Regions from separate parts of the Homo sapiens genome. Here region 2 is linked to region 1. Evidence: fine-mapped expression QTL. A gene starts in region 1. The other region holds a variant in brackets. All regions are shown on one strand. Distances are from middle to middle. Region 1 holds the start of PLBD1-AS1 (PLBD1 antisense RNA 1). Region 2 overlaps PLBD1 (phospholipase B domain containing 1).

Region 1 (10,663 bases):
CAGGCGTGAGCCACTGCACCTGGCCTGGATCCCAAACTTTCACACTGGCTGGGAAGGTCACACCTGGTGACAGACTTTATCAAGTTATATAAACTTGATAGTACAGTCATTCTCGATTTCTAATTATGAATTAGAACTTTGGTGTCCTAGGTTTGCAAATGACCTGAAAGAGAATAACACCGGTGTGAATAACTTGACACTCCCTTATGCTGAAATTATTACTGCATATGCAAGGCAGATGGACAAATTTCAGAGCCAGCCTGTCTCTTTCGTTGAAGTGCTCATTCTGTTTTCATCTCTCTCAATCAAGAGACTTCCACAGTTTTCTCTAGGAAGACTGTATCATGGCCAGGTGTGGTAGCTCATGCCTGTAATCCCAGCACTTTGGAGGCCAAGGCAGTCTGATCACCTGAGGTCAGGAGTTTGAGACCCACCTGCCCAATATGGTGAAACTCCCGTCTCTACTTAAAAATACAAAAATTAGCCAGGTGCGGTGGCACATGCTTGTAATCCCAGCTACCTGGGAGGCTGAGGTAGGAGGATCGCTGGAACCCAGGAGGTGGAGGTCACAGTGAGTTGAGATTGCAGCACTGCGGTCCAGCCTGAGTGACAGAGTGAGACTCCCTCTCAAAAAAAAAAAAAAAAAAAAGACTGTAACTGAACATGATTATGTTATCTGTGTAGACAGTGTTTCAAGTCTTAAGCTAAAATTTCCCCATAATTTCACTACCTCTATTTCATTTTTTACCACATTAATTCCTGTTTTGCAGTAGTAAAAAGAAGCTCCGTAATAACATTATTAACACATTTTCTAGTCACATTTTCAAGCTGGATGTTCGAAAGATTGTAACATATAAGTTGTATAAACTAGACTCCATTCCATTTTTTTGAAAGGCAAAACCTAAATGCATAAAAATTACTTAAAATGCTGAAGAAAATAAATCCCTTTGGTTTTATTCCATGAAGGGTACCACTACCTCTTTTATTTTGCTGTCTCCATAGTTAATGCCTTATAATGTGAAATCTAACAAAAGCAAAGGATAACAAGTGACAATGTAAAATTCATGTCTAAAGAAGTATGAAAACAAAAATTTCTTTTCTGCATGTCAACACTCAAGACAAAGTTCATATGTTTCTTAGCATATATATTATAAAAATAAGCCACCATGAATTTTTTTTAAAAAAATTGTTTTACTTCAATGTAAACACTGAAGGAGGATCCTTTTAAATATTCTTCTAAAGATTTTTATCTTTGCTACCAAATTTATGTTTTCAGAAGGACCAGGAAACAAAGTTTAATAATGAAGATAAGTGGGCACTTCCTTCAGACTTTGTTCTGGAATTTATCTTGTGTACATTATGCAAACAAGTTGATAAAGGGAGAGCACAAGAAAATGTTCAAGTTGGGACTGGGCACGATGGCTCACACCTGTAATCTCAGCACTTCGGGAGGCCAGGGCAGGCGATGCACTTGAGGCCAGGAGTTTGAGACCAACCTGGGCAAAATGGTGAACCTCATCTCTACAAAAAATACAAAAATCAACCAGGCATGGTGGTGCATGCCTGTATCCCAGTTACTCGGGAGGCTGAGGCATGAGAATCACTTGAACCTGGGAGGCGGAGGTTGCACGGAGCCAAGATCGCGCCTTTGCACTCCAGCTTGGGCAACAGAGCAAGACTCTGTCTCAAAAAAACAACAAAAAAAAAATTACTTCAAAGCACATGGATTATCATCTTCAATCCTGCCTGCCTTATCAAGACATGATAACTTTTTAGAGAAAAACAACTTCAGTGGCCACTCAATTATACAGCACTTACTGCATGTCAGGCACAGTGTTTCTCACAACAGCCCCATGAGATAGAGACACTTATAATACCCATCTTCCAGTTGAGGAAACCAAAGTACATATAGAGAAAATAACTGACTAAAGGTCACATGGCAAGTGTTGGAGTCAGGCTTCAAACACAGGCATTAGGGTTCCAAAGGATTTCCTCTTGCTGGAATTCTGTGTTACCTCTCTAATACTATACTTCCAAGAATGAAGGACTTCCGTGTAAAGAATGAACATACTGAGCAACTGTGAGGCCTTATGTCGAATGAATTTGGAAATAAGAATGTCCTCAGAGACCAGGTGCAGTGGCGGTCGCCTGAACCCCAGGGCTTTGGGAAATGAACCTGTGGGAGGATCACTTGCGAGCAAGAGTTTGAGATCAATCTGGGTAACATAGTGAGACTCTATCTCTACAAATAATTTTTTTTTTTAATTAGCCAAGTGTGGTGGTGTGCACCTGTAGTCCCATCTACTCTGAGGCTGCAATGAGCTATGATCGTACCATTGTACTCCAGCCTGGGTGACAGAGCAAGGCCCTATCTCCAAATAAATGAATAAATAAGAATGTCTGCAGAGTTAAAGGAGCAACTGAAATTGACCCCAGTCATAGGTCTGCCAAATCAGCTTATGGAGACTGAATGTTCCAGGATATTAAACTTTTTGACAACCAGATAAAGGTATTAACTGTTATTCTCAAGTGGACACTGGTAAGCCATGGCAATGTGGAAAAGGCAGTGTCCCAAAATCAGGGACCAGCAATGCTAGGCAAGCACCATGCAGTGGAGGGGCACTCTCTCGGCTGACTCAAGTGTATGATGCCTACCAGGAGACAGACAAATCAGGCCTCCAGCCTGACAATCTGTGATGTTATCTACCCCCATGTGGTTTGATTACAGTGAGAAAGTGCCTAGAGCAGACCTCACAAATATCCAGTCTGCCTGACAGTTATATTTCTAACTAAAAATTATGCTAAGTCTGATGAATAGACTTGGGTGTATATCAGGGTGAATCAGCTTTCTTAGCTGTGATCAGATATGGAGCAGTAGAAAGACTGAATTTCTGGAGTCTAGCCCTGCAAGGCCGAGGGCCAGATTCTGAACCAGTTTTACCAATATACATACCATATTATGAGTCTCTCAGCAGCCAACCCTAAAAGAATGTCTGCAGAGTTAAAGGATCAACTGAAACTGACTCCAATCATAGGTCTGCCAAATCACCTTATGGAGACTGAATGACTTCCAAGATGTTAAACTTTTTCAGAACCAGATAAAGGTATGATTTATTTCTCTAGTGACCACCTGACTTCTCTATACATACCACTTAGAAAAAATTATATAAGGACCTTCTAAAATCAATTATGGGGCTTTTGGTCTGGAAAGATAAACGCAACACCATATGTCTGAAATCATAGCTTGAAAGATTTGGCTAGAATGACTGTGCAATTATTTGTCAACTTCTGGAATAATAAAACTATAGAGTAACCTTTACAAATTGAAGAATATGCAAGAATTAACTAAAAGTGTCCGGGCATGGTAGCTCACACCTGTAATCCCTGCACTTTGGGAGGCTGAGGCGGGCAGATCACCTGAGGCCAGGAGTTCGAGACTAGTCTGTCCAACCTGTTGAAATCCCATCTCTACAAAAAATATAAAAATTAGCTGGGCGTGGTGGTGTGTGCCTGTAATCCCAGCTACTCGGGAGGCTGAGTCAGGAGAATTGCTTGAACCAAAGAGGTGGAGGTTGCAGTGAGCCGAGATCACGCCACTGTACCCAGCCTGGGGGGAAAATAAAAATAATAGGAAATAATAGTAAAAAAAAAAAAAAGTAAAATTAAAAATTGAAGAAGTTGTTTTTGGATAGATAGATGCATATGAGTGGATATAAAATCCATTCCAAGGGGATGGACATGCAATCCCTTTAGTGTTTACTGAATTCCTACTAAGTTCAGGGTACTGAGCTGGGTACTTCAGAGAACACATGACAAGTGAGAGGTAGCAAGTCCCAGTTCTTTACTCTTTGGTTGTTCGCAGGCTAGTAGAAGGGTAAAGACAAAGACCCAAAAAGCCTCAAGGGAAAACAGATTAATGTGGGTAGGACAAAGGAAACAGAGATCTCATCTGCTGAAATAGTGTGGCATCACCAGATGTCCTTAACACCTAGGTAAGTAAGAATCCTTTCCAGATTGCTGGGCATGGTGCTGTCAGGATCACTTCATCTCAGAAATGTCCTTACTTTCTGCCTTGGCTCCAGAACCTCCAAGCATGGAGTCAGCTTCCTGTTGGAGGAACTGTTTAAGATGCAGTTTCTTACAAGGTGGTACCTTCTTGAATAAATAGTGCTCCATCTTCAGAAAAACAACGCCTGTCTCACTCCTCAGGCTGCCCCCTCCACCTACAAAAACACTTAATCTCACTCGTCCAAAAAAACAGAAAAGGAATAAAGATTTTAGCCAGCATTCCAAACACAAAAGCTACCTCCACTTTTGGGACCCTCCCCAGCCTCCCCCAGGTACCTCTGAATGAGCTGTCTCCCTAGACTAGAAGTAGACACCAAGGCCACCTCCATAGTTTAGGCAAAGAACACAGAAAATCACGAGTCAGGAGCCTGTGGGTACATCTGATCCCACAGACTGGAAAGATTTAAGATTGAAGAGTGATAACTAAGCAAGTCTCAAAAACGAAGGCTCTTGATGATGGAAGGTAGTGTAATAAGAATCAGTACACATATTTAGGAAGGGGCATCCTCCCCCAAGCCCCACCCTACTCTTGTACAAGGTCAGCACAGAAAAGGGGATTATGAAATAAGACAAAATTAATTCTCTTATTATTACTTTAGAATTCTTTCAAGTCCCTTAGTTACAGTTCATAATCTTCACCTCCTTAGGAACGGAAATCATAAATCCAAGGCTTTTTAATTTAATTTAATTTAATTTTGGCAAAGGATGTAGATTTGCATGAATACCTGTAGAGATAAAACCTGTTTTTCCAAGAGGGAAGTAGTTAAGAAAATGCCCTCTGGCATCCCCTAACTCTGTCTTATTTGCTGTGTTATCTTTATGCGAATTACTTCTGATCAATCTCACTTTTCTCATCTGCAGAATGGGGAATATAATCCTATTTAGGATTATATATTAAAAAAAAAAAAAAAAAACTGCCGGGCGCGGTGGCTCATGCCTGTAATCCCAGCACTTTGGGAGGCCGAGGCAGGCGGATCGCCCGAGTCAGGCGTTCGAGACCAGCCTGTCCAACATGGTGAAACCTCGTCTCTACTAATAATGCACAAATTAGCTGGGCATGGTGGCTGACGCCTGTAATCCCAGCTACTTGGGAAGCTGAGGGAGGAGAATCGCTTGAACCCGGGAGGCGGAAGTTGCAGTGAGCCGAGATCACACCATTGCACTCCAGCGTCGCCCACAGAGAGCGACTCTGTCTCAACAACAACAACAAAACCAAAAGGCCCTTAAGCCCACTGCCAGGCACGTATCAAACTGACAATCGTGCAATCGTGATTTTAAGCCAAAGTCAATGTAAATTTTTAAAACACAAAACAAATGGCAAGCCGGAACCATACCTCCCTACAATCTGGATAAATATATTTAGATGCCCATTGGCTGGAGTTTTTAAGACCAGCCCAGGCTCTGTGGGCCAAGAATCGGCGCAGGAGCGAACCGATTTGTTGGCCAAGAATTCGGGCCAAAACTTGTAAAGTTGGCAGACGCACTCGCCATGCCCTTCTCAAGTGCCCTCGCTGCGCAGCCGCAGGGCTGGAGCGAGACCGCCGGCCGGAGGCGCGTTTCTCTGAGTTCACCCAGGAACCAGACGCCCGCTGGACGTCAACTCGGCCGGACGCGGGGCACGGGCGCTAACAGGCTCCTAGGAGCCTCCCCGGGCGCCCCCCGCCCAGGGCGCGCTCTGCTCACCTGCAGGTTTCGGCGGCTCCGCGGTGACTAACAACAGCGGCAGCAGCAGCAGCAGCAGCAGAAGCGGTGGCGGCTGTGGCAGCCCCGGGCGCCCGCCCGGACCGCCGCGGGTCATCGCTCCACGGCCGCGACCTTCCTCTGCGGGATCAGGCGGCCGCGGTGGCCCGCGGTGGCAGAAGTTGCAAGAGAGGCTCCTGGCCTACTCAGGGGCGCCGCCTCTCCGAGGTGGGGCGTCCTCAACTTTCCTCTTTCTTGAGCCCGGCCTGCTCCGGGCTCTGAGGGGCGAGGACGCTTCACGTGGTGGCCTGGGGCCCACCCCGCCTAGGAAAGGCGGATCCTTTACGTCTGACCCTCTAGCAACCCCTGGGCCGGTCTGGGAAAGTTCCCCAGCTGCACTTCTGGGAAATGCAGAGGCTGCCTGCCGCTTTCTTTCGCAGTTTTGCGGCCCAAGGCTTGGGCGAATCAGTTCACATCAACACCCCTACTAGCCTCTCCCTCCGGGGTCGACCATTTATCTCCAGCAGCGGACCAGGCGCCCGGGCCAGGGTGACATGCGCGCCCTGCCTACACGCAGCTCGGATCCTCTGCTGTTTCTGGAGAGGCCTCCACAGGTGCGTTTTCCTCAGCGATTAGCGTACCCCTCATTCCCAGGCTGTTTAACCTAAATCCATGCGCTGTAGCTCAGATTTTTTATCCTTTTTGCTTCCTCTTCGTTGGCTGGAGCCACCACAGGAGAGTGATTCAGACGGGGCTGACACTAGACACACTCCTACGTTTCTGTGGAGTCCCCATTTCTGTGTGGGGTCAGTTAAAAGTGACATTGTGAAGTAGTCAAAAGTTATGCCTTGGGTGATATTGTGAAGTTGGCACCGGGTGCCCTAGGTGACATTGTGAAGTAGGCAAAAGGCATTTCATTCATTCACTCAGCATTGGCTGGGCCCATCTTATACTCCAGATACCAGTGATATAAAGACAGCTAAGAGCATGCCTCACCACAGACAAAAAGAACTAAGCCAGCCGGGCGCCGTGGCTCACGCCTGTAATCCCAGCACTTTGGGAGGCCGAGGCGGGCAGATCACGAGGTCAGGATATCGAGGCCATCCTGGCTAACACGGTGAAACCCCGTCTCTACTAAAAATACAAAAAATTAGTCGGACACGGTGGCGGGCGCCTGTAGTCCAGCTACTTGGGAGGCTGACGCAGGAGAATGGCGTAAACCCGGGAGGCGGAGCTTGCAGTGAGCCGAGATCGCGCCACTCTACTCCAGCCTGGGCGACAGAGCGAGATTCGTCTCAAAAAAAAATAATAATAATAACAATAATAATTTTTTTAAAAAAGAACTAAGCCATATAGATAAACAAGTACACAGAACTTGCCATTCTACTGTGTTAGAGCTATGTTTAAGGTGCAGTGGGAGAGGGGGAAGGAGGGAACAAGCCACCTCTCAGATGGGAACCTCAGCACCCCACTCTTCCTCTTGGCCTTTCTTCTAAGCTTAACCTAGGTGTCAAGGAGAGATGAGAAGAGAGAATAAGCAGTACCTTTCATAACGGGGAAAATGTAATTGTTAGAAAAGATAAAGAACCTAAAAGTTCATCAAATCTCTGTGCAAATTGTGAAACACAAGTCACAATTTTGTGGTCCAGGCACCATGGCTCATGCCTGTAATCCCAACACTTTGGGAGGCCAAGGTGGGAGGATCACCGGAGCCCAAAAGTTCAAGACAAGCCTGTGCCACACAGGGAGACTCCAACTCATTTTTATTTAATTAAAATTAAAGTCACAATTATGTTTAATGGCATTTAATGAATGAAGACATCGAGGACATTGTAAAAGTTGCACATTTTCCTTCAAGTTAGAAAATTAAAATGAAGAAAAATTAAAACGAAGACATCGAGGACATTGTAAAAGTTGCACATTTTCCTTCGTTAGAAAATTTAAATGAAGAAAAATTAAAATGAAGACATCGAGGACATTGTAAAAGTTGCACATTTTCCTTCAAGTTAGAAAATTAAAATGAACCAAAAATGAAAATTTTGGTTGTGTTATGATGGGAAGAGAACCACATTAGGATGTTCAAGGAAGTGGTGCCACCCCAAATATTTGAGTCATATTGCCCTATACCACCCTCCTTCACCTTACTAACCCTTCTGATCCAAGGAGCCAAGTGTTCTGATGAAGTAAGATGCATATAAATGCCTAATGTGAACCTTGAGGCATTCATTCATCTATTATTTGTCATCAAATATTCGTTGACTCCCATGTTCCAAGCACAGAGCAGTAGACAAAACAAAGTCCCTGCCCTTGCAGAGCTTGCATTCCAGTAGTGGGGAGCAAATTATACATATAAACAAATTAATTGGATCAGGACTTCTCCACATCAGCACTATTGAAATTTTGGAGCAGACAACTCTTTGTTGTGGGGGGGTTGTCCTGGACACCCCTTGGCCTTTACCTACTGGATGCTAGTGGCACCCCCATTGAAAATGTCTCCAGACATTGTCAAATGCTCCCGTAGGGGGGCAAAATTGCCCCCTAGTTGAGAATCACTGAATTAGATGATAAATCTTGCTTTCTTTAAATTATGCCAGTTTTACATATCTGGGAGGAAAATGAGCTGCAAAACTCACACATAGTTAGGAAAATAAATCTTGGGACCCCAAAATCACTAAGCCAAGGGAAAAGTCAAGCTGGAAACTATGTCAGGCAAACCTGCCTCTCATTTTATTCTGAAATAAGATAGCTACAAAGATAAGAAGCTACATACCTCCCTCACAGTTTGCCCACAAGGAAATTCCCTGTGGACAAAGGGAAGACAGAACTTAAAAGTCATCCCTCTGAGGCTCACCTGAGACAAATGCACATCTGATTGCTTCCTCTGCAGTATTGTTTATGTAAAAATGCAGACTCCCTGGGCCAGACTAAGTTGTGTATTCTGTGGAAGGCTGATCAAGGATTCAAAAGAATGTAACATTTTGTCTCTTTTCTACTTCTAACATGGAATACCCCACTTTGAGTTGTCTCGCCTTACCATACTGAACCAATGTACATCTTACACGTATTGACTGATGTCTCATATCTCCCTAAAATGTATAAAAGTAAGCTGTACCCCGACCACGTTAGGCACATGTTGTCAGGACCTCCTGAGGCTGTGGCCCTGGTGTGTCCTTAACTTTGGCAAAATAAACTTTCTAAATTGACTGAGACCTGTCTCAGATTTTTTGGATTCACATACTAAAGCTGCAATGAGGAGAACCAAAGATGCCAGCTGCGAAATGTTCTCATCACTTCTATAATGGACTTGTGTGGTTTGGGGCTACTCAGCGTCCATTATTCTCTTCCTGTACCAACTTTTGGTGCAGGAATGCCAACTTTTGGTGAGCCAAGGGTGGAGGTGTTTCTACCAGGAGACACAATAAGGAAGTATTATTGAATTGGAATTTGAAAGTGCATTACTGAATTGCAATTGGTCTTTTTTGAGCTCCTCTTAAAACATAAAAATATGTTTGAATGGTTAAGAATAGGATTGTAGTATTGGTAATTTTGCCTTACTATCAAAAGGAGTAGGAGCATTGGATGCGGTGGCTCACTCCTGTAATCCCAGCACTTCAGGAGGCCGAGTTGGGTGGATCACTTGAGATCAGGAATTCGAGACTAGCCTGGCCAACATGGTGAAACCTCGTCTCTACTAAAAATACCAAAAATTAGCTGGGCATAGTGGCTCATGACTGTAATCCCAGCTACTTGAGAGGCTGATGCAGGAGAATCAGTTGAACCCAGGAGGCAGAGGTTGCAGTGAGCTGAGATCGCACCACTGCACTCCAGCCTGGATGACAGAGAGAGATTCCATCTCAAAAAACCAAAACCAAAACAAAATGAAAGGACTGGGAGCATAATCTCACCTGGGAAGCACCACTGGGGACTCAGACTCCTCATCCCAATGGGCAAAGAATCCCAGCAGCTGAGTTGCTGGCCCAAAGCAAGGGGAACATGGAAAAAAGGTGGAGAAGAGAAGTCACATATAATTATCTATAGCCAGGTGACCAGTTGCAGAAACAAAGATAGTGGTCTCTATTGGCCTCTATATTTCTTTCCTTGCTGTAACATGTATGTGGTGGATTGAAAATTTTACAGTTACAGTTCCAGAATGAAATATCCAAAATGTAAATTTGTTTCTTTTCCAAAAAAGTGTAATTAACTTAGCATTCAAACACATCCACTGATGGTAATTTTTTTTTTTTTTTAATTTTTTGTAAGACAGGATCTCACTATGTTGCTCAGGCTGGTCTCAAATTCCTGGGCTCAAGTGATCCTCCCACCTTGGCCTTCAAAAATGCTGGGATTACAGGTGTGAGTCCAACCAGTAAAAATTTTTAAATACCAGATTTAAGGTTGCGCAATTTCATTTGGACCAAATCCTTAGTGTCCTTTGCCTTCTTTATGTCCTTACCATTTTTCCTTAAGGATGACCTTAGCTTCGGGGGCTTATGTATTGACTTGGTACTAAATAAGGGACATTTACTCTGTGAGTCATACTCTTGGCTTAGTGGCCTCCACTAAGATATAGCTTTTTTTCTCATTCGGTCTGCAGGAATTGTAGTGCATAGGCATCTGCTGTTGGTATCTGCAGCTTTACCTTGACCTCGGATTTAGATTTCCAGATACTCTGTGTATTAGTTAATGTAATGCTAGCTATGATGACAGATAAACTCCAAAAGTTCATTGGATTAATGCAACAAAAGTTTATTGGTGTCTTGTATGCCAGTCCAGTGTGGGAGTTCTTAATCAGTAAGTGGCTTTCCTCCATGTAGAAATTTAAGAACCCACCTATCTTTCATCTTGTGGCTCTGTCATTCTCTAAGGCAGAAGTTCCCATGCTTTCTTGGTTTATAGTGCCCGTAGAGTGTCAGTA
Region 2 (10,663 bases), 47 kb before region 1:
AAGAAACACTTCCGGTTAATAAATCCTATTTCAAGACTTAAAAAAAACACCAAACTGCAGAAATAAACAGTAACCACTATGTAGTCATGCAAATGGCAACAACAGTTACTCAACACACACCATGGAACAAACACATTAGAAACAATTATGAAGATTGACTCATGGGGAGTTGCATGTTGAGACAGGGTGGAGTTGAGGGAAATCATCTTATGACCAGTTAATCAAGAAAAGTATGAAAACTAAGGTGGGATTTCTGGAAAGGTAGAAGGGAGGACACATCCTGATTTAGGTGGGGAAGATGATCAAGACAGGTCTGATCTGGCAGAAGACATCAGTGTTCTGGGATGGTACCAATGAGGAGACAAAGAATCAAAGAAAGGTACTTAAAAAAAAAACAGAAATTAAGTGCTGCAAAATCCATTTATAATTCTTTAGAATACGTGCCCGTATTCTGCTATTGCTTTTTTTTTCTTGGTTCTACCTTTTAAAAGCAAAGGACATGAATTTTGGTCTGTACTAAATATAGATTGTTTTTATATACTTCAGCTTTATGACCAAAGTACCTAGATCAAAGAGGTAACATGACATTAATAACAGTAATTACAGAACATTAAAAATGTTTACAACATATATTTATTAAATAGGCAATTTTATAGATTATGAAGACTTGACTTAAATTTTCCTGGAGCCTATTCTTTTATCTTCATGTGTACCTACTTTCAAGTACATGCACTTAATATTTAAAAAGGCCAAGCTGGCTCATGCCTGTAATCCCAGCACTTTGGGAGACCGAGGTGGGTGGTGAATCATTTGAGGTCAGGAGTTTGAGACCAGCCTGACCAACATGGTGAAACCCCATCTCTACTAAAAATACAAAAAAAAAAAAATTAGCCGGGCGTGGTGTAGTCCCAGCTACTTGGGAGGCTGAGGCACAAGAATTGCCTGAACCCAGGAGGCAGAGGTTGAATTGGCCACTGCACTCCAGCCTGGGCAACAGAGCGAGACTCCATCTCAAAAAAAAACAAGGCCGGGCACGGTGGCTCACGCCTGTAATCCCAGCACTTTGGGAGGCTGAGGCAGGTGGATCACAAGGTCAGGAGTTTGAGACCAGCCTGACCAACATGGTGAAACCCCGTCTCTACTAAAAATACAAAAATTAGCTGGGCACGGTGGCGCGCGCCTGTAATCCCAGTTACTCAGGAGGCTGAGGTAGGGGATTCGCTTGAACCCAGGAGGCGGAGGCTGCAGTGAGCCGAGATCGCGCCATTGCACTCTAGCCTCGGTGACAGAGCGACACTCCATCTCAAACAAAAACAAAAACAAACAAACAACAACAACAAAAAAGGCTAAGCAAAGATTTTGCTGCTTAGACCACAAGGGCTGCCATAGTCTCACAAACAGGATGGACTATGGATTCAGTATGCTAGGATGGTCTAGGGTGCTTGTTACAAATGTCCCAGCCCAGATCAATGAAATATGAATTTCTATGGATGACACTGCATTTTTAGCAAGCTCCATAGGAAAAATTGGGGAACATCTAAGTTTAAGAGGTATGTATACATGTATGGGGGAGGTGATAGCATACCTGTATATAATGAGAAGTAGGAACACACACACGCTTGGGGAAACACACTAAATGCATCCCAGAAAGCCTCACTTATAGATCATTAAGCTTGAAGCCTCAGCCTTATGGGGATCATCATTACTGGGATCCTCAATTAAAAGTCCTTTGAGGCCAGGCAAGGTGGCTTATGCCTGTAATCCCAGTACTTTGGCAGGCAGAGGAGGGCGGATCACCTGAGTTCAGGAGTTCGAGATTAGCCTGGCCAGCATGGAGAAACCCTGTCTCTACTAAAAATACAAAAATTAGCAGGGCATGGTGGCATACGCCTGTGGTCCCAGCTACTTGGGAGGCTGAGACACAAGAATCGCTTGAACCTGGGAGGCAGAGGTTGCAGTGAGCTGAGATCACGCCATTCCACTCCAGCATGGGCGACAGAGTGAGACGCCATCTCAAACAAAAAAAAAGTCCTTTAAATAGGTTCCATCTTTTATTCCCACATAGAAGCTCCACCCACCTGGCATGGCAGGAAATCCTTTGAGTTCACTGCTCTTTTAGTTTTTTGTTTGTGTTTGTGTTTTGAGACAGGCCATGCTCTGTCGCCCAGGCTGGAGTGCCGTGGCGTGATCAAGGCTCAAGGCAGCTTCAAACCCCCAGGATCAAAGGATCCTCCCACCAGGCCTCCTGAGTAGCTGGGGCTACAGGCATGCACCACCACACCTGGCTAAATTTTTTAATTTTTTGTAGAGACGGGGGTCTTGCTATGTTGCACAGCCTGGTCTCAAACTTCTGGGCTCAAGCGCTCCTCCTGCCTTGGCCTCTTAAAGTGCTGGGATTACAGGTGTGAGCCACCACACCCAGCCGGCTCTTTCAGTTTTAGCCATTTAATTTAAATCCAAACTGCATCATTTCTAAAAAAAAAAAGAAATGGATATTTATAGTTAGATATATTGCCTTTGCACCCAGTCCTCAACCACTGAATTGTGTGACCTTGACCTGTTTGACTATTTAACTTCTCTGAACTGTTTATTTTAAAAATGCAGACAAAATACCCTCCTTGAGGCTTTTTATGGAAGGCAGAATTTGTAAAAGTCAGTATGCTTTGCCTCTCGACTGCATTAACATGCCACAGGCTCAGACTGTTTTGTGTAAAGGATGTCAAAGAACTGCACTTTGTCTAAAGAGAAGTTTGATGTTTTGTATGCTTGTTAAGAAAATACAATACTAGAAGTTAATGGTAGACAACTGATTTTAAAAATACCCTTCTTGTTAGGTTTTTATGAACATTAAATGACATAATAAAAACAAAATGTTGGCCTGGCACAGTGGCTCACGCCTGTAATTCCAGCACTTTGGGAGGCTGAGGCAGGCGGATCACTTGAGGCCAGGAGTTCGAGACCAGCCTGGCCAACATGGTGAAACCGCGTCTCTACTAAAAATACAAAAATTAGCCGGGCGTGGTCACACACACCTGTAATCCCAGCTACTTGGAAGGCTGAGGCACGAGAATCACTTGAACCTGGGAGGCGGAGGTTGCAGTGAGCTGAGATCACACCACTGCACTCCATCCTGGGTAACAGAGTGAGATTCTGTCTCAGAAAACAAAACCCCCAAAACAGACAAAAACAAAATGTGCACAGTGTCAGGGACAGAGCCAGGTACATGGTAGGGGCTAAACACATATTCAGGTTTTTTGTTTTCCTTTCTATTTAATAACTAGTTGAACACAAACAAGCTTATAGTAATTTATTTAAAACTTAAATTCTGCCTAATTCCCATAAAACTAGTCAGGTCCCATTCATGTTATTTATCACAAAGGATTTGCTTCAAGTAACAAGTCCTGTGCTGAACACATAGGTTTTGCATCTGAAGTCCCTTGCTTACAATTCCTGAACATCTTAGACTCCTGTTCTCAAATCTAGGGTATGAAAGGGAGGGCAGGATGAATAGAAAGCAAGTTACAATAAGAACTGTGATCTCTTAGGCAGCCCCCACCTCCTCCTTGTTTTATTGCCCGTCTTTCTTTCCTACAGTTCCTACCATGTCCACATCAAAGTGGACATAATCTATCTCCTTACTGTTTTCCCTCTAATCCTTCTTTCTTCCTTCCTTCTTTTCTCCTTCCTTCCATAAATATTTATTCAATGATTATAATATGCAAGGCTCTGTGCTCATCCTGGGACACAGACATGAATACAGAATATGGGCTTTGAAGAAATTATGCACAGGGTACCTAGGAAGCTCAAAGGAGAGATAACTTACTTGGCCTGAAGGTTAGTAAAACCTTCTAAAAGGAGCTCTTGTGCTACTCTTTGTTAATATGAAAAGCACTAGGGTATTATGTATTACCCAGCCAAAAAAAAAATGCTCGTATCAAGGGTGAGTATTCCAATAATAGCAGCATGATAAAATTGAGTGATTTTCCCACAAATAATAATTATAAAACTGTATAAAATTATTTAAAGCAATGATCTGAAGATACTAGGAATGACCAAAGGCAGAGAGAAACAGAACATTAGTACAGCATTGGTTAAGATGGAGTATGAGGCTTCCTTGCCTGTGTGTATTCCTAAACCCGTGATATGGACTGAATTCTGTTTCCTCAAAATTCATATGTTGAAGTCTTAACCCCTAGTACCTGAAAATATGACTATATTTGGATACAGAGCATTAAAAAGGTAATTAAGGTCAACTGAGGTCATATGGGCAAACTCTAATTCAACATGACCGGTGTCCTTATAAGAAGAGGAAGTGAGCCGGGCGTGGTGGCTCATGCCTGTAATCCCAGCACTTTGGGAGGCCGAGGCAGGTGGATCATGAGGTAAGGAGATCGAGACCACCTGGCTAACAGGGCGAAACCCTGTCTCCACTAAAAATACAAAAAATTAGCCGGGTGTGGTGGCATGCACCTGTAGTCCCAGCTACTTGGGAGGCTGAGGCAGGAGAATCACATGAACCTGGGAGGCAGAGGTTGTGGTGAGCTGAGATCGCACCACTGCACTCCAGCCTGGATGACAGAGTGAGACATCATCTTAAAAAAAAAAAAAAAAA[A/G]AGGAGGAAGTGATGCCAGGTATAGCCCACACAGAGAAAAGGCCATGTGAGGACACAGTGAGAGGGTGGCCATCTGTAGGCCAAAGAGATAAACCAAACCTGTCAATATCTTGATCTTGGACTCTCAGCTTCTAGAACTGTGAGAATAATTAATTTCTGTTGTTTAAGCCACCCAGTCTTTGTCATGGCAGCCTTAGCAAACTAATATATAGCCCATACCCAACTCTAGTTATGGAAAACTAGAGCCATTCTGGCTTGAGATGGTGAGATCAAAGTCTAGTATTGCAGAACAGCTGAGAATTTAAGAGGAAAATTTTGGGAGCAAGAGAACCACAAGAAGAGCAGAGATCCAAAATCTGAATATGAACTGTGTCCTGTTCCCTGACTGACCACTAACTGTGCATGAATGTGGGAAATGCCAGGGAGCCCAGGGTAAAAACAGAAAGAAATGAGAAGGGTTTTCCCTTGTAAGACAGAAATGTTCTAGAACTGAGATAGGTGAGTTTGCTGCAACTTACACTGCCAGGGTTCCCAACTCATATGCAGCTCAAATTCCTCAGGCTCTCAGAGGACAAAGGTAAGAGCTGGAAAAGCAAATGGGAATATAGGGGAAACCTTAGGATCAAGGAAATCACAAAGAGAGTTAGCTCTATAATATGAATTTGAGCTGCCAACATCTTTCACTGACTGCTAAATTACACAGATGCAGGAGCAACCTCCAGAAGACCAGGTTGAAGCAGCAGTGTTGAGGAAGGACATTGGTTGCTGCACACTGTGCAGGTGACATATGTTGAAGTTTGAGTGCAAGCAAGGTAATTGCCTGTTAAAAACAACAACAAAAAAAGTAAAACAAGTGACTTCAGCAAGATGTCTGACTAGAGGTGCCTAACATTCATTTCCCTACAAAAAAAAAGGAACCAAAATGATGAATAAACAACTACATTTTGACTAGAGTATCCAAAGGAGAACACTAAAGTGTTCCGAAGGAGTACAATAAGGGAGGGGCAGAGACCCAGTGGAGCATGGAGACTTGGGATGGCTGCATAAAAAAGAGAATGAAACATTCTGCCTTTGCCACTTCGTCTTCCCAGTCAAGGTCGGTATGAAACCAGGAGGCAGTCTCCCTACGGAGAAAACGTGAGCAGGAGAACTCCCAGCAATCTCCATTAAAGATGCAAACACCTACAGTCTTTGCTGCTTGAGAATTCTGCAGTTTTCACAAGTCATGAACCCATTCTAGGGAGCTGCCTGGCATTCACATGGCTGTATTACTCCAAAGAATGAGCCCACATTGTGCCTCCTTCTCCTCTGTGATCTAAGCTGCTGATGTACAGCACTATCTTGAGACCGGTGCCACTACTATAGTACACTGTGCTCTGGAGGGCCAGTAACCACTGTTTGTTTCTCCCCATCCTGAGGCTCTGCTGCAAGTACACTGTGCTTGTAAACAGTAGCACACCACTCACCAGTTGAGCAGCTACTGTTTCCTATCCACCAGGAATAAGCTGCCTACGATGCACTCCATCTTCCCCATCCCTGTGGCACAGCACCTCAACCTCAATTACTCAGAGCATAGGCCCAGTGAAACAGCCATAACCTTGGTGCCTGAGCCCATGTGGTGTCCTGACGCCCAAGGAACAGATGATCCTACCCAGCAGGAAGGCCACACCTTACCCTGAAGGAGCAGTCCCTATGCACTTGCGGTGTGTGTAACAGCCTGGCACTCCTGCCCCCAGAGGACAGACTGTGTCTAATCCTATTGGAGTAGGCCTTGTGCACCCGTGGCGCATGAAACAAACTGGCACCCTTGCCACAAGCAGAAAAGCCATGCATATGATTTGACAGAGCTGCCATACAAACTCCTCCAGGCTAGGATGCCACTGAGGCATCCATAGAAATTGCTAACATTGACTACAGCTGAAAAAACTGCATGGTGACTACACTACTGCATCCACCTGGAACCACAGCCAATGCATCCTCCACAACCGACACCTTAGGACACATCTGCAGGCAAAAATCTTTTCCTATGATAACAACTCTATACAACTGGAAGAGGCATCCATTCTATCAGATGCCCAGACATCAGTGCAGGGACACAAGAAATATGAAAAAGCAAGAAAACATGATACCACCAAAAAAACACAATAACTCTCCCATAACTGACCTTAAAGAAATGGCAATTTACTAATTGCATAAAAAATTTAAAAATATGATCTTAAGGAAAATCAATGAGATTCAAGATAATATAGATAGGCAATTCAATAAAATCAGAAAAGCAAATCATGATATGAATAAAGAATTCAACAGAGATATCATTAAAAAAAAACTCTTGGAGCTGAAGACTTTAATGAATGAAATAAAAAATATAATGGAAAGTTCCAACAGCAGACTACACCAAGCAGAATAAAGAATTTCTGAACTGAAGACAGCTCTTTGCTTGAAGAGTGAAGAAAGCCTACAAGACCTATGAGACACCATTAAGTGAACACATTTTCACACTATAGAAACTTGAGAGGGAGAAGAGATGGAGAAGGGCACAGAAAGCTTCACAAAATAATAGCAGAAACTTCTTAAGTTTTGAGAGAGATATAGAGAACTCTATGCCAACAAATATGAAAACTTAGAAGAAATGGATAAATTCCTGGGCACATAAAACTTAACGAAAATTGAATCATGAAGAAATAGAAAATTTGAACAGACCAATAACAAGTAATGAGATTGAATTAGTAATAAAAAGTCTTCCAGAAAAGAAAAGCCGAAGACCCAATGGCCTCACTGATGAGTTCTACCAAACATTAAAGAAAAACTAATACAAATCCTTTGAAAACTATTCAAAAGACATGAAGAGGAGGGAATACTTCCAACATCTTTCTATGAGACCAGCATCACCCCGATTCCAAAACCTGATAAGGACACAACAAATAAATAAATCTATTGGCCAATATCCCTAATAAACCTAGATACAAAACTCCTCAAAAAAATATTTAAAAACTGAATTCAACAGCACATTAAGAAAAATCACTCACCATAATAAATGGGATTCATTCCAGGGATGCAAGGATGGTTCAATATATGCAAATCAATAAACATAATACATCATATTAACAGAATCAAGGACAAACCCATGAAGGGATGTTGAATCTATTGATCTAGAAAAGATATTTAATAAAATTCAACATCCCCTCATGATAAACACTCTCAACAAAACAGATATACAAGAAATGTAACTCAACACAATAAAGCCCATATATGACAAATTCACAGCTAGCATCATACTGAATGGGGAAAAGTTGAAAGCTTTTCCTCTAAGATCTGGAACAAGACACAAATGCACCACTTTTATTTAACATAATACTGGAGGTTCTAGCCAAAGCAATCAGGCAAGAGAAAGACAAAAAGAGCATCCAAATTGAAAAGGCAGAAATCAAACTGTCCCTGCTTCCAAATGACATAATCTTATACAGGGAAAACCCTGAAAACTTCACCAAAATACTGTTAGAACTAATAAGTAAATTGAGTACAGTTGCAGGATATAAAATCAATATACAAAAATCTATAGCATTTCTATATGACAATAGCAGACAATCAGAAAAAAATAAGAAGGCAATTCCATTTACTACAGCTACAAAAACAAACACTTAACTAAGCGGGTGAAAGATCTCTATGATGAAACCTATAAAATATTGACATAAGAAATGAAGAGGATACAAATGGAAAGATATTCCATGTTTACGGATTTGAGGAATTTTTAAAAAAATGTCCATACTAATCAAAGCAATTGACAGATTCAGTGCAATCTCTATCAAAATACCAATGACATTCTTCATAGAAAGAGAAAAAAATCTTTAAATGTGTATGGAACCTCAAAAGACCCCAAATAGTCAAAGCAATCTTGAGCAAAAAGAACAAAGCTGGAAACATCACACTACCTGGCTTCAAAATATACTACAAAGTTATAATAACCAAAACAGCATAGTACTGGCATAAAAATAGACATATATACTAATAAGACAGAATAAAAAATACAGAAATAAATTCACACACTTACAGCTAATTGATTTTTGACAAAGACACTAAGAACACACATTGGAAAAAATTCTCTTTGATAAATGGTGCTTGGAAAACTGGGTATCTACATGGAGAGGAATGAAACTAGACCCCTTGCTGGGTATTTATCCAAAGGAAATGAAATAAGTATGTTAAAGAGATATCCACACTCTCATGCTTATTGCAGCACTATTCACAATAGTCAAGATATGGAATCAACCTAAATGGCTATCAACAGATGAATGGATAAAGAAAATATGATACATATACATATAATGGAATACTATTCAGCCATAAAAAGGATCAAATTATGTCATGTGTAGCAATGTGGATGAGCCCTGAGGGCATTATGTTAAATGAAATAAGCCAGGCACAGAAAGACAAATACTCCACAATCTCACTCAGATGTGGAATCTATAAAAGCCGATCTCATACAAGTATAGAGAAGAACAATGCTTACCAGCAGCTGGGGAGGGTAGGCAAGGTGGAAAGGGCTTAATCAACAGGTACAAAATTACAGTTAGATAGAAGGAGAAAGTTGCGGTATTCTATTGCACAGTAGGCTTACTATAGTTAACAATACTATATTATATATTTTAAATAACTAGAAGAGAGATTTTTGAATGTCCTTACCATTAGAAAGTGATAAATGTTTGAAGTGATGAATATTCTAAATACCATGATTTGTTCACTACACAATGTATACATGCATCAAAACATCACACTGTCCCCTATAAATATGTACAATTATATGTCATTTAAAAATAAAATAAAACATAATTCTCAAAAATACACATTTCAGAGACACTATGGTGTGCTATTTTTCAAGTCCACATTTCAACCAAAAATTACCAGGCACTACAGTTAACAATATTGTGTTACATATTTCAAAATAACTATAAAAGAGGATTTTGAACGTTCTTGCCATAAGGAACTGATAAATGTTTGCGGTGAAGAATATACTAAATATGTATATACATTGTGTAATGATCAAGTCATGGTATTTGCTATATTTGTCACCTCAAAAGAAAAAGGAAGGTACGACCCCACACTTAAGTCACTGGAAACTGTTTCCAAGTAGGTCTTGATATTGGGTTTAGCGGACAAAGACAAAACAGGAAAATATGGTTTTAAGAGTTACCAGAGAGGGAATCTCAACATAAAATTAGAAATTAAAGAAAGAACAAAATTGAAATTCTAGATCTGAAAAGTACAGTAAATGAAATGAAAAACTCACTGTATACTTCAACAGTAAATTTGAGATGGCAGAAGAAGGAATTAGAAAACCTGAAGATTGTGGCTGGGCATGGTGGCTCACGCCTGTAATCCCAGCACTTTGGGAGGCCAAGGCGGGTGGATCACCTGAGGTCAGGAGTTGGAAACCAGCCTGGCCAACATGGTGAAACTTCATCTCTACTAAAAATACAAGATTAGCCCAGTGTAGTGGTGCATGCCTATAATCCCAGCTACTTGGGAGGCTGAGGCAGGAGAATCGCTTGAACCTGGGAGGTGGAGGTTGCAGTGAACTGAGATCGCATCACTGAACTCCATCCTGGGCAACAATAGTGAAACTTCATCTCAAAATAAATAAATAAATAAAATAAAATAAACAAAAAATAAAACAAAGAAAACCTGAAGATAGAAGATTAATGGGAATCATCCAATCTGAAGAACAGAGAGAAAAAGAAAACTAAATAAAATTTACAAAGCCCCAAAGACTTGTGCAAAAATGTTTAGCATCTGATGGATAAATGACTGGAGTCCCAGAGGGAGAAGAGAGAGAAAAGAGGATGGAAAAAATATGTGAAGCTATAACTGGTGAAAAACCCTTACATTTAATGAAAAACATTAATTTGCAGTTCCTACCAGCACAACAAACTTAAAATACAATAATCACAAAGAAGACCAGAGCTAGCCCACGACAAAGCTGAAGTCACCAAAAATCTAAATGCAGAAAAAAATTAGAGAGGAAAATAATATACTTAACAGCTTACTTCTCAACAC

What was found. PIP is the estimated chance that this variant, and not a neighbour inherited with it, causes the effect.
Region 2: its variant is the best candidate, but not a certain one, in a credible set for the expression of PLBD1-AS1 in whole blood (TOPMed, PIP 0.76).

Annotation. Positions count from the first base shown.
Region 1 is chr12:14,561,831-14,572,493 of GRCh38, forward strand. It overlaps PLBD1-AS1 (PLBD1 antisense RNA 1), which reads left to right and starts at 5,902. Exons shown (of 6, transcript NR_120465.1): 1 at 5,902-5,976; 2 at 6,189-6,362. It overlaps PLBD1 (phospholipase B domain containing 1), which reads right to left and starts at 6,053. Exons shown (of 11, transcript NM_024829.6): 1 at 5,752-6,053. The coding sequence starts at 5,866. RefSeq lists silencers at 4,898-5,074, 5,814-5,923 and an enhancer at 5,319-6,000.
Region 2 is chr12:14,515,024-14,525,686 of GRCh38, forward strand. The region is part of intron 6 of PLBD1 (phospholipase B domain containing 1); the gene reads right to left. Among named protein-coding and RNA genes, the nearest start is that of PLBD1-AS2, 9.8 kb to the right of the region's middle. The variant A/G (reference allele first, on the strand shown) is at 4,613.